Homo sapiens: one gene and its partners. The protein of the gene in region 2 interacts with the protein of the main gene of each other region in a pairwise test. Each region holds a gene or a part of one and is shown on either strand. Other genes may lie near its edges. The genes, in order: MID2, ZBTB16 and FAM217B.

Region 1 (3,750 bases), on a different chromosome or scaffold from region 2:
CAAACTTCATTGCTTACTCCAAACCCAGTTTAATTCCCCACTTTTTTAAGTAGGCTTAGCTTTGAGTGATTTTTGGCTATAACCGAAATGTAAATCCACCTTCAAACAACAAAGTTTGACAAGACTGAAATGTTACTGAAAACAATGGTGCCATATGCTCCAAAGACATTTCCCCAAGATAACTGCCAAAGAGTTTTTGAGGAGGACAATGATCATTTATTATGTAGGAGCCTTGATATCTCTGCAAAATAGAATTAATACAGCTCAAATGGAGTAGTAACCAAGCTTTTCTGCCCAGGAAGTAACAAACATCACTACGAACATGAGAGTACAAGAGGAAACTTTCATAATGCATTTTTTCATTCATACATTCATTCAATAAACATTAGCCAAGCTAATGTTCCAAGCACTGTGCCAGGTATTAACAATATAACAACAATAAAAGACACAGTCCTTCCTCTCAAGGTGTTCAGTCTAGTAGGGAAGATGATTATTCATTAAAATTTTTGGTGCATCAGAATCATGAGGAGCTTGTCAAAAATGTAAATTCCTGCCTATGTTCTCAGATATTCTGGTTAGGTCAGGAGTGGGAACCCAAAATCAATTCTTTTAACAAACACTAAAGGTGATTCTAACACAGGCGGTGTGAGGACCACACTTTGAAAAACACTGCTATACAATGTGATTATTGCTGAGAGAGGGGGATGCTTGGGGTGTCTTTGGATCTCTAAAGAGGGATGCATCATCAAGTCTAAGGAATAAAGAGTTAGTCTGGTTGAGAGAGATAGAGGTGAGGAAAGGTAGTCCAGGATAGAGTCAAAAGTAGGGTGGGGAAATTAGATCTTTGTCCCAGGGCACTAAAATCTAAAAGACACCACAATAAATGAACAGTTTTGGAGAGCCAAGGACAAGGCAAAGGAAATTGTTCTACTGGAATGGAGGTTGCATTTTCTGTACTTACAGCATTTTCACACTATTCCTTTAATTTAAGAAAAATTTCTGTTGTTTACTCTGGGCATTAAAATTGTTAATCATGTTTCTGCTGCAGGCCCAGAGAATAACTTGTGTGAATAGTTGTGTAAATAGTTAAACTTGGCTACCTTAATCAATGTGAGGGGGAAAGTGGCAAAAGATTAAGCTGTGTAAGCAAACAGGGACATGAAAACCCAGACTCTGTAAGGAGTTGGGACCTTCTACTGGGTGCTAAGGGAGCCAGTGAAAAGTTTGATGAAGGGGAAAAAAATCATTTTTTTTTGTTTAAGAATTTGGGGATATGCCCTAGGGAAGAGACAAAGGTGACTGAGAAATGAAGGAGAAATGAAGGACATACATTTTAAAGCACTGTTACGCTGTATTGGAGCTGGGAGTAAGGAAAGAGATTAATATTTATGGCACACTTAGGAAATGTCAAGCGCTGAGCTAAGACAGTTTACATATGCTATCTTTTTTAACCTTTGAAACAGCCTTGTGAAGTAGACATTATTTTACAGAGGAGGAAACAGGCTCAGAGAAGTGAGGTACTTGTCCTAGGTCACAACGCTAATAAATGGTACAGAAACTAGGATCATTTGAATCCAAAGGTTATGAGCTTTCCACTACAGCAAACTATTTACCAGCACTGATGAATTTTACTGAGGTTGTTCATTTCCTGATTAGCAGTAAGCACATATGGTATTTAAAATCAAAAAAGATGACATTGCTGCTAGATTTATATTTTTGAGCCTTCCTTGTGTGTCTGCATCAGTCTTGCCTTCCACATTAAGTGAACAAACAATACATAACTGTTATTGGGGAGGATTATATACTTTGTTTCTTCCACAGAATAGTAAGCCATTTGGCAGCAGGTAGAGCATTTTGTTAATATGTGCACTCCCATGGCAGTAGTTTGGTACCTGGCATCTAATAGTTTATTGAATGAATTAATAAATGAGCATCCACCAAACTAGGGGAAAGGAAGAGGGGAGTTTTGACATTTCAAGTCTCCAATCTGAGGGAGTTGTTATGGCTACCACTTTGTAATTTTACAACAGTAATATTTTCACAAATCCCAGAAGACTTCCGAAGCCAACTTAGCTCCTGGAAAGGGGAAAGCTCTGGCTCTCTGACATCCCCAATCCCTTCGATGGAAATTTAAAAAAAAAAATCATAGACTACAAGGCTCCATTCCCTTCAACTATACTGGTTAGGACTGGGATGAAGTTTGTCTCCATTTGCGTGGAGGGATTGGCTAAGAGAATGAATACTGTAAACAAGATTGCAAAAGGAATGATTATTTATCCTATTTAAGAAAACAAACTGTTTTCAGACATTCTTGAGCACTTCAGAAGTGTTTTATCTGAAAAAGCAAGTACATTTATATGGGAATAGTTGGTGCATCAATAATACTCAATTTTTACTGATTAAGTAAAGTAGGTTCCTAAAGAGCCTTCACTGTGCAACTTTTTAAAAGCCTAATTCTCATAACTGTGTGTACTTGGGAGTAGTAAAACTTTTTTTTTAATAGTCTATGACAGAATTTTTAACAATTCAGATGGCCATCCTCAAGTAGGTAGCATCACTTCTACCTGATCAATTTTCTATCCAGCAACAGCATCTCTTGTGCAATCTTGTCTGTAAATCTCTGCTAATCCAATAAAGCTCTTCCCATTATCTGTGTCATGGTTGCATGTGTATGTGTGCGTGACAGGAGGGAGGAAGGCAATGATGGATAGAGGGAGGAAATAAATGTTGATTGATTTTGATGTTTCCTTTAGGGGACAAAAATGGATGGTGTAACTTATTTTCCCTTCCAGTATATTTCTCACTCAAATTAGCAAATTAAAAAGTTTTTTGTTCTAGTTCGAGGTGGTGTTTGGAAAAAAAAGTTTTTTGTGTATATGTAATATATAAAGTGAATATGCATAAACATACATACACAAGTGAATATATATAAAGTACATATATGTTCACTTTATATATTACATATACACATTCATGGTTTCCTAACAAACCCTTGATGATAGGTTTTCATCAAAAGTAAAATATAATATGTGATAATTTGACACTGTTCAAAATTCTACATGGCCAAACTGGCCAGTACTAGAAAGGCTGACCACCCCCCGCTCTGGCTTGCTAGCTCCTTATTCAGGGCACCTTTCCACATTATTTAACTAGAATTACCCTAATTGCTTCCAATATAATTTATATTCTTAAATCATTGGGAATTTTTAATTCTCCAATGACAACAGAGGCATTTTCTAAATTTTTCTCCAATGGCTTGAACGCAGACTACTCAGATAATTTGTTCTGAAAAACTCAATAAATTAATTCAAATACAAGCTTTAATGCACAAAAATTAAATCTGCAATATCTAGTTATTTTGGATGCTTCAAACAAACTTTATTTTGTGTCTCGTATATTGAACGCTAACTTAGGTGTAGGAGGGGAAGAACTGCTGAACTAGAGAGCCAGTGAATTATATACTCTCCTGAAACTTAATGACAGGTTTTCATCCCAGAAACATAAGGGGATTCTTGAGGCCTGCAGTTGCATTCCTGCCGCTCAGGGTAATCAATAAAATCTGGGGCAGGCAAGCCAGACAGGATCATTAGGGATTTGTTCCAGATTGTAAATGTTGGACAAACTGGAAGAATGAAGGTCACATCAAAAGTATGAAGATGGAGAGAGTTAGCTGGGTCATAGAAAGACAGCATATTGTTGTCATAATCCAGGAGGACACCCAGACGCTTCAGGTGTGGGGGCACATCCACC
Region 2 (3,750 bases):
GGGACTCCTGCCATAGAGTTCGTAAGTGGCAGGGCTGGGGTTCACACTCACACACCCTAGATTTTAATGCTTTCCCAAGACTAGCTACAGATCCTGTTTTGTTTTTTTTTTTTAACTACTTCTCCACTCACTAAAGCATGAATCTTAGGTCCATTCACTCAACAAGTATTATTTGATGCCTTCTACAAGCAAGGCTGTCTTTTTGGCACTGGGGATATAACCAAGGAAGAGCATGCAAAGTCCCTGCTCTCATGACCGACGTTACCCAGAACACCAGGTGAATGGCGGAATCCGGAAGATGGAATAGTGTCTGTGAACACTCTGGGCCAGGAGGAAACATGGCCGGTGGGAGGATCAGACAGAGGAATGGTGCAGTGCAGCTGGGGAAGAAGAGGAGGCTAAAGGGAAAGGCAAGGGCCAGGCCATGCAGGGTCTTGCAAACCACGTCAAGAGATTTAGTTCCATCCTAAACCCGATGGGCAACTGTCAAAGGATTGAAAGCTAGCGAGTGATGTGAGATTTTCATTTAATTCTAACTGGCTGTTCATCCCCAAAGTACCCCACACATACAGGCTGCCATTTTCTGTTTGTTACCAATCCCTTTCTGACACTGCTCTGGAGCCATGGCCGAAATTTCCAGCTGCAGCACCACAGGAGGAAGTATCTGACCTTGTGTCTGAGTCCTAACTGGCAGCTCAGTGCCCACCCTTTTGGGCTCTGTTTTCCTGAGCACAGGAGCTCCCCGGCAGGCCCATCTGTGTGTCTCTGTGCTGGTGCCTGGGCAATATCACCTGCACTTGGCCCCACACCGCTGTCCCCTGTGTGGGAAGGCACAAGCAGGAAACGTAAGTAGGCCTAGCATCTGTCAGTCCAGTCCAGAGTGGGTGGGGGGAGGGGGTAAAGCTTTGGCTGCTGGAAGCCATGGGCTGCTCAGCATGGAATCGGGAAGTGTCTGGTGGAAGGTAGGGGGAAGAGAAGGGATGGCACGAAGAACCTCCCTGCCTTCCTGGCCATCAATGGAGATAGCAAGTGAGAGGTCTGGTCCTCACCACCTCCGTCCCACTCATGGCTGGGTTAGGATGGACTAGTAGGCAGGCAAGGCCCACCTCTCACTGTCCCCCACACTTCTGTGCCCCTCACACCCACCCTGATATCCCTTCCCTTTGCAGACACTGAAGTCTAAGCACCTGGAGCCACGCCCCATCTCACCAGCAGTCAGGAAGGCTGAGCAGGGAAGGAGAAAAACAGCCAGCACAGGATTTTGCTCCTGGCCAACAAAAAGCAGGAAGGAAGGGGAGCGAATCTAGGCGTTATGCTAGGTACCTTATCTATGTTGTCAGTTCATTTAAAACTTGCAATCCTACAAGGCAGGCATTCTTATCCCCCTTTTTACCAGTGTAAAAGAGAGATTAAATAACTTGCCTAAGATCACACAGAAAGAGGCAGAGTTGGGATCTGAAAATATCTCGGTTTGTCTTTCAGAAACCACGGGGCTGGACTCAATGCTACCTCTGGAGCTGACTGCCCGCCTGTCTGGGCTTACCCTGGAAGAGGCCCAGTAAGGATGGTACAGAGGACTCCTGCCTCTAGTACAGCTCCAGCAATGGCTAGAGAACCCCTGGCCAGGAGTGGGCAGTAGCTGGGGCTGGGTCACAAGGCATAGCTCTCTGAGGCCTTCCAATCCCACTGGGAGCCACCAAGGTCTCTCAGAAATGCTGAGTAGTCTACTCAGCTTCACTTGCTGGAGGGAGACATAATGAGAGATGTATCTTTCTGGACAGAAGCAATGCCAAGAGTTGACAGTGAGTCTTCAATGTCCCTCCCTGCTTGGCCGACGTACACAGGAGGACAGTGCATCTGCAATGCGTTCTGTGCCCGGTGGCCCCCACTCCTTCAACTTGAGAGCCCCCAGCATCTACTCCCTCTCTGCCCTTAACCCCCACCCCACAGAGAGCCCAAATTAAGCCAGGTGTTCAAACAGCTACCTTAAATCAGTAGGGTTGAGTAGGCTTTGGAGGCCAGCCATGCCCTTTAAGAGCCAAGGCTTCTCCTTATGCATCCTCTGAGATCCCCGGCATGGAAGGAACCTGGGCAGAGGGAACATGAATGGCATTCCCAATAGGACATCTCAGCCTATACAGCCAGACCCACAGGTGCTCTGAGTGTCAATACACCCAGCAAGGCAGACTGCAGCACTCTGCCCCCTTGGCCTTTCCAAGGCCCCTCGATACTGCCCCACTATGCTGTCCCTACTTCTCAGGGTGGCCTGAACCCACTTCATGTCCATTCAGCCAACTCACTGAGCCACTACCAAGTACAGGCACTGTGCTAGGTGACCAGGGGCAGGCTAAGGCTGAGCAGAGAAACTGGGTCCCAGACTAGTGGGAGATGCTGAGTTAACAACCACCCAGAGGGTAAGGCAGGGCGACTCCAAGAGCTCCTGAGATTTTGAGTTAGGCTTTTAAAAGTTGAGTATCTGAGAAGCAAAGGACAAGAAGTTGGGACACATGTGCCAGGCTAAGGAGAGAGACACCACTGGCAAATGTCAGAGCAGATGGGGCCAAGGTCAGGCCCTGGGGATGGAGACAAGCTGGGAGGGTGATGGGAGTCAGATCAGAGGGCTGCATATGCCAGGCAGGACAGGTTGGACTTTATTCTACAGGCAATGCAGTGCCATGAAAGGACCGAGGGTTGCTATGATCCTAATGTCTGGGTCCCCCTCTGATTCCTTTTTTGAAATCCTAACCCCTAAGGTGATGGTATTAGGAAGTGGGGCCTGGGAGAGATAATTAGGTAATTAAAATGGAATGAGTGTCCTTGTAAAAGAGGGCCCAGAGAGCTAGCTAGCCCCTTCCACCACGTGAGGACACCGAGAAATCAGCAGTCTGCAACCAGGAGGAGGACCCTCACCAGAACCTGAACATGCTGGCACCCCAATCACAGACTTCCCAGCCTCCAGAGCTGTGAGAAATGCATGTCTGCTGTGTATAAGCCACCCAGTCCGTGGCAGTTTGTTATAGCAGCCTGACTTGACTAAGACGAGTGGTGCTAGCACGATCTGACCTGTGTTTGAAGCCAGTGACTCTGGGCACACATGGGGACCAACAGCAGCAGCAAGCGGTTAGAAGCAGCGAGAGGGCTGATGGGCCACTGGAGGAGGGTAGGGACCAGACCAGGGCAGAGGCTGCCAGGGCAAAGGGAGAGAGAAAATCCTAGAAAGGTGGGACAGCAAGGGAGGAGTGGCACGCAAAAAATCCCAGATGGCCAGTTCCACAACTGGCCAACAGGCTGGAAGTCATATGGTCACCAGCTGGAAAGGAAACACTATGATGTCCCTACAGTGGTCTCTCTCCCCTTCCTGGGACATTCCACAAGGTGCAGGGGTGCTCCTTGGTCACGTATCCACCAACCAAGGCTCCCAGGGGAAGAAAGGGGAGCCTCTGAGACTCAGCATCCACTTTCCCCATTTTTCTGCTTAGAAACTAACAGCTATGATGATAGAAAAGTATTTTTAAAAAAATGGAAAAGTGGGGGAGATGTGGATGAGACACAAGAAAAGCTATTGGTGCATGCGAGTTAAAAATCTAGAGACTAGATGTGAGTTATTAAACAATTTGCTGGCGTTTCAGCCTAGCTGATTGTTCGCATGTATGATGAGTCAGGGCAGATTCTATTACACTGGGAGATTAAGCAAATAAATGCTAGCTTTTGGAAACACATTAAAATGTGGGACTATGGAAATAAAATTAT
Region 3 (3,750 bases), on a different chromosome or scaffold from region 2:
GTTTGCACTCTAGGTTATGAAATACTGGGGAAGGGAGACATTGTCTTATGCTTACAGCTTTGTCTTTTCTGCTTATTACAGTAGATATTAGAGACAGGATCACAGGATCACACTACTATAAATACTGTGAATGGATTCCATCTCTCTCTCTCTCTCCCTGTTCACACACAGGTATAATCTTCCTTGGAAATAATATGTTGAAGAAATCTGGAAGGCTAAATAAGGTCAGGTCTTATTACAGCGTTCAATCATTGCATTGCCCAATCATTCATTCATGCAACAAATAATTACAGGAGTACCCAGAAAAATGGCAATGATTATGCACGTCCCTGTTCAGAAGGAGCTTAAACTCTAGGAGGAACGTTCCCATTCAATTTTTCGGCCTTCTCTATCACATCAATCCATTATAAGACTTTCCATATATTCATACATATTACATATTATATATCATCTCTTTATGAAGCATTGTTGACCTATACCACATATTGCTGTTATTCCCCTCTCATTTTGAGTGGCCTATTAAAAGTGCACTGAATGGAAATTGGATACTTCTCTTTCCCGTATCACCTGTCTCTGTAAAATAAAAGAGATGATTATAGAAGATTTTTATTTTCTTCCTGAAACTTTCCTGTATTTTTCCCACATTAATCATGTAAGCCTTTTTAGTTAGCTTACATCCAATGATAAATAAAATCATTCTCTCACATTTCATGAATTATACCACAATCAACAGCCTTGACTCATTTTAGATGCAACGAATGTTCTTGAATCAACCCCCTTTCATTAGTCTGGTTTTCTTTCTGCTTTGTCCCTCTGGACAATAAAAAGGAACCTTCTTAATGGAATGGCTGGCCCCAAACTGCTCTCTGGAAAGTGCACTTGCATCTTTTCTACTTCATTTCACCTGGTATGCTTTACACCAAAGGCTGTGGGGTTTTGTGCTCAAAGCTACCGGGTGAGAGACACGAATGCCTGCAGGGTTCTAAATAGGCAGAAAACAAGCTCCAGGCCTTGCTGGTGTTTCTGGCTTGCTTGGAAACAAAGCTAAAAGTCGGAGATTCTGGCTACAAATATGCTCCCCAAGCGCCAGAGGCTGATTAAGGGCAGCTGCAGAAGTCATCAGCGGGTAATAACTCTTGTTCCCCTGTCTTCCTCTCTGGCGCGGAGTCCAGGAAGACAACAGCAGCACCTCCCCTCCCCACCCTCAAGGGAATCTGCTGGCCATTCGGTGCGGCAAAGCATTCTGGGTGATGTGGACATGACGCTGCTCCTCTACGCAGTGAGGCTCCCTCGGTCTGACCAAGGGTCCAGGTTGCAGTGAACCTGTCCAAAGTGTGGGCTGGCCTCGATGTTTAAAATTAGCCTGAGACCAGCTCCTGGCAAGGCCGGTTTTTGCACCACCGCTCCCCCCATCCACAACCCAGAAATCTAAGGACACGCAGCATGCATTTTCCTTGTCCTCCGTTTGTGCAGACAAAGTCTATGATCGATAGGCGCGCAATCCAGGCAGACGTAAACAGAAATTGATCAGACCTGTTTCGCGACTGCAGCGGACACGTGACGAGGCTGCCAGCCTTCCTTCCTCTCCGGCGCCCGCGCGGGGACGCCCGGCTGCGGCGCGCTGCGGCAGGGGAGCTGGAGGCGGAGGCGCGCAGCTCCGCTGAGCTCCCTGGCTGAGCTGAGGCCGGCGGGGGCCCGCCTGCAGGCGGCGTCACGAGGGGCGGGGCGGAGGCTCGCTAGGAAGTTGCACCCGGTCAAGTTGCAGCCTTGTAAGTAACGCCGCGGACCGGGAAAGTGGGAGGGGCCGCTCCCGGAACGCAGCCTTCTTGTAAGAACCTCCAAGGAAGCAAGAAGAAAAAAGAGGCGCTACCCTGCGCTCCCGGGAGGCCTCTGAAAGCTTCCACTAGAGAAAAACTCCCCACTCTTACAATTTCTTTAACCGCAAGAAGCGGAGGACCTGGACAAGGACTCGAGGAGCAAGGTGGCGAACCAAGGGTAGGGCGCACCGGGCCCGAGAGGTCCCCCGCAGGTTGCAGATACGGTGGACTCTCTGCGGCTTCTGAGCACGGAGGGAGCTGTCGCGGGGTCGGGAGGTCGTCTCTCATCCCTGCCTCATCTTCCGACGGCCGGCGGGGCCATGTCCAGAGGCCCGAGCTCCGCGGTCCTGCCTAGCGCCCTGGGATCCCGGAAGCTCGGCCCCCGGAGCCTCAGCTGCCTGTCGGACCTGGACGGCGGCGTGGCCCTGGAGCCGCGGGCCTGTAGGCCCCCTGGGAGCCCGGGCCGCGCGCCGCCGCCAACGCCAGCGCCGTCGGGCTGCGACCCCCGCCTGCGGCCCATCATCCTGCGGCGGGCGCGCTCACTGCCCAGCTCCCCCGAGCGCCGCCAGAAGGCCGCGGGCGCGCCGGGCGCTGCGTGTCGGCCGGGCTGCAGCCAGAAGCTCCGCGTGCGCTTCGCCGACGCCCTGGGCTTGGAGCTGGCACAGGTCAAGGTGTTCAACGCGGGAGACGACCCGTCCGTGCCGCTGCACGTGCTGTCGCGGCTCGCAATCAACTCGGACCTGTGCTGCAGCAGCCAGGACCTGGAGTTCACCCTGCATTGCCTGGTGCCCGATTTCCCGCCGCCCGTCGAGGCCGCCGACTTTGGCGAGCGCCTGCAGCGGCAGCTCGTGTGCCTGGAGCGTGTCACTTGCTCGGACCTTGGCATCAGCGGTACGGTGCGCGTGTGCAACGTGGCCTTCGAGAAGCAGGTGGCTGTGCGCTACACTTTCTCGGGCTGGCGCAGTACCCACGAGGCGGTGGCGCGGTGGCGCGGGCCCGCAGGCCCCGAGGGCACGGAGGACGTTTTCACCTTCGGCTTTCCAGTACCGCCCTTCCTGCTGGAGCTCGGCTCCCGCGTGCACTTCGCGGTGCGCTACCAAGTGGCGGGTGCCGAGTACTGGGACAACAACGACCACCGAGACTACAGCCTCACATGTCGCAACCACGCGCTGCACATGCCTCGCGGGGAGTGCGAAGAGAGCTGGATCCACTTCATCTGAGCCGCGCGGGGACCGGCCACCTGGAGCCTCCACACCTAAGCTGCGCCTCCTGTCATTTCCCTGCTGGGCTCTCACATCTATCTGGTTGTTCTTCACCACCCTCCAAGTCCTCTGACCTAATTTTCTGCTGCAAGGTCCCCTGGCAGTGGCCCATCCTGTCTTCTACTTGAAACGTCTGAGTCACTTGGTCTAAAAAGTAGCCTCAGGTGGCCAGAAGGCCGAGTTGTGTAATGAGTTGGGGCAGGGTGGTGGGGTAGGTGCATGGGAGGGTGGGCCCTCTGGGGAGGCCCAAGCAGCTTGTTTTGCAAAGGCCCAAGTCCTCCTGCTAGGAAAAGCTTTTGCATGTGTCCTGAATGTGTCTCTGTAAACATAGCTGTTATTTATTATTGTGATGTTGGGACCTTTAGCCCATAGCGGATGCCTCCTCAGGAATATTCTCGATTTAATAAGCTAAAAAAAAAAAGTTCTGTGTTTGTGCCCACAGTAAACAGAATGTACAGTGTGACCCACATCGTGGTCCCTCCAGGCATTCCTGCCCCAGGATAAGGAAAACCTGAGCCCACATCTGATTGCCAACGGCTGTAGCCTTCTAACAGTGGGAAACTATTAATAGGCAAGAAATTTCTGCTTTATCAGTCATCACACAACCATTCCTGGGCATTGAGACTGTCCTGGTTAGGCTGTGTGTCTCCTACATTAACAGCTGGGGAGGA

Evidence for each region.
Region 1: the proteins of ZBTB16 (region 2) and MID2 interact in binary tests that used the Homo sapiens proteins (3 or more experiments, as listed by UniProt).
Region 3: the proteins of ZBTB16 (region 2) and FAM217B interact in binary tests that used the Homo sapiens proteins (3 or more experiments, as listed by UniProt).

The regions. Positions count from the first base shown.
Region 1 is NC_000023.11:107,926,797-107,930,546, reverse strand, and holds part of MID2 (probable E3 ubiquitin-protein ligase MID2), read right to left. Parts: coding exon 3,474-3,750; 3' UTR 1-3,473. UniProt on the Homo sapiens protein: E3 ubiquitin ligase that plays a role in microtubule stabilization. Mediates the 'Lys-48'-linked polyubiquitination of LRRK2 to drive its localization to microtubules and its proteasomal degradation in neurons.
Region 2 is NC_000011.10:114,237,597-114,241,346, reverse strand, and holds part of ZBTB16 (zinc finger and BTB domain-containing protein 16), read right to left. Parts: intron 1-3,750. UniProt on the Homo sapiens protein: Acts as a transcriptional repressor. Transcriptional repression may be mediated through recruitment of histone deacetylases to target promoters. May play a role in myeloid maturation and in the development and/or maintenance of other differentiated tissues.
Region 3 is NC_000020.11:59,938,319-59,942,068, reverse strand, and holds the start of FAM217B (protein FAM217B), read right to left. Parts: upstream 1,681-3,750; 5' UTR 1,534-1,680; intron 1-1,533. Other genes in the region: PPP1R3D (protein phosphatase 1 regulatory subunit 3D), read left to right, coding at 2,138-3,037.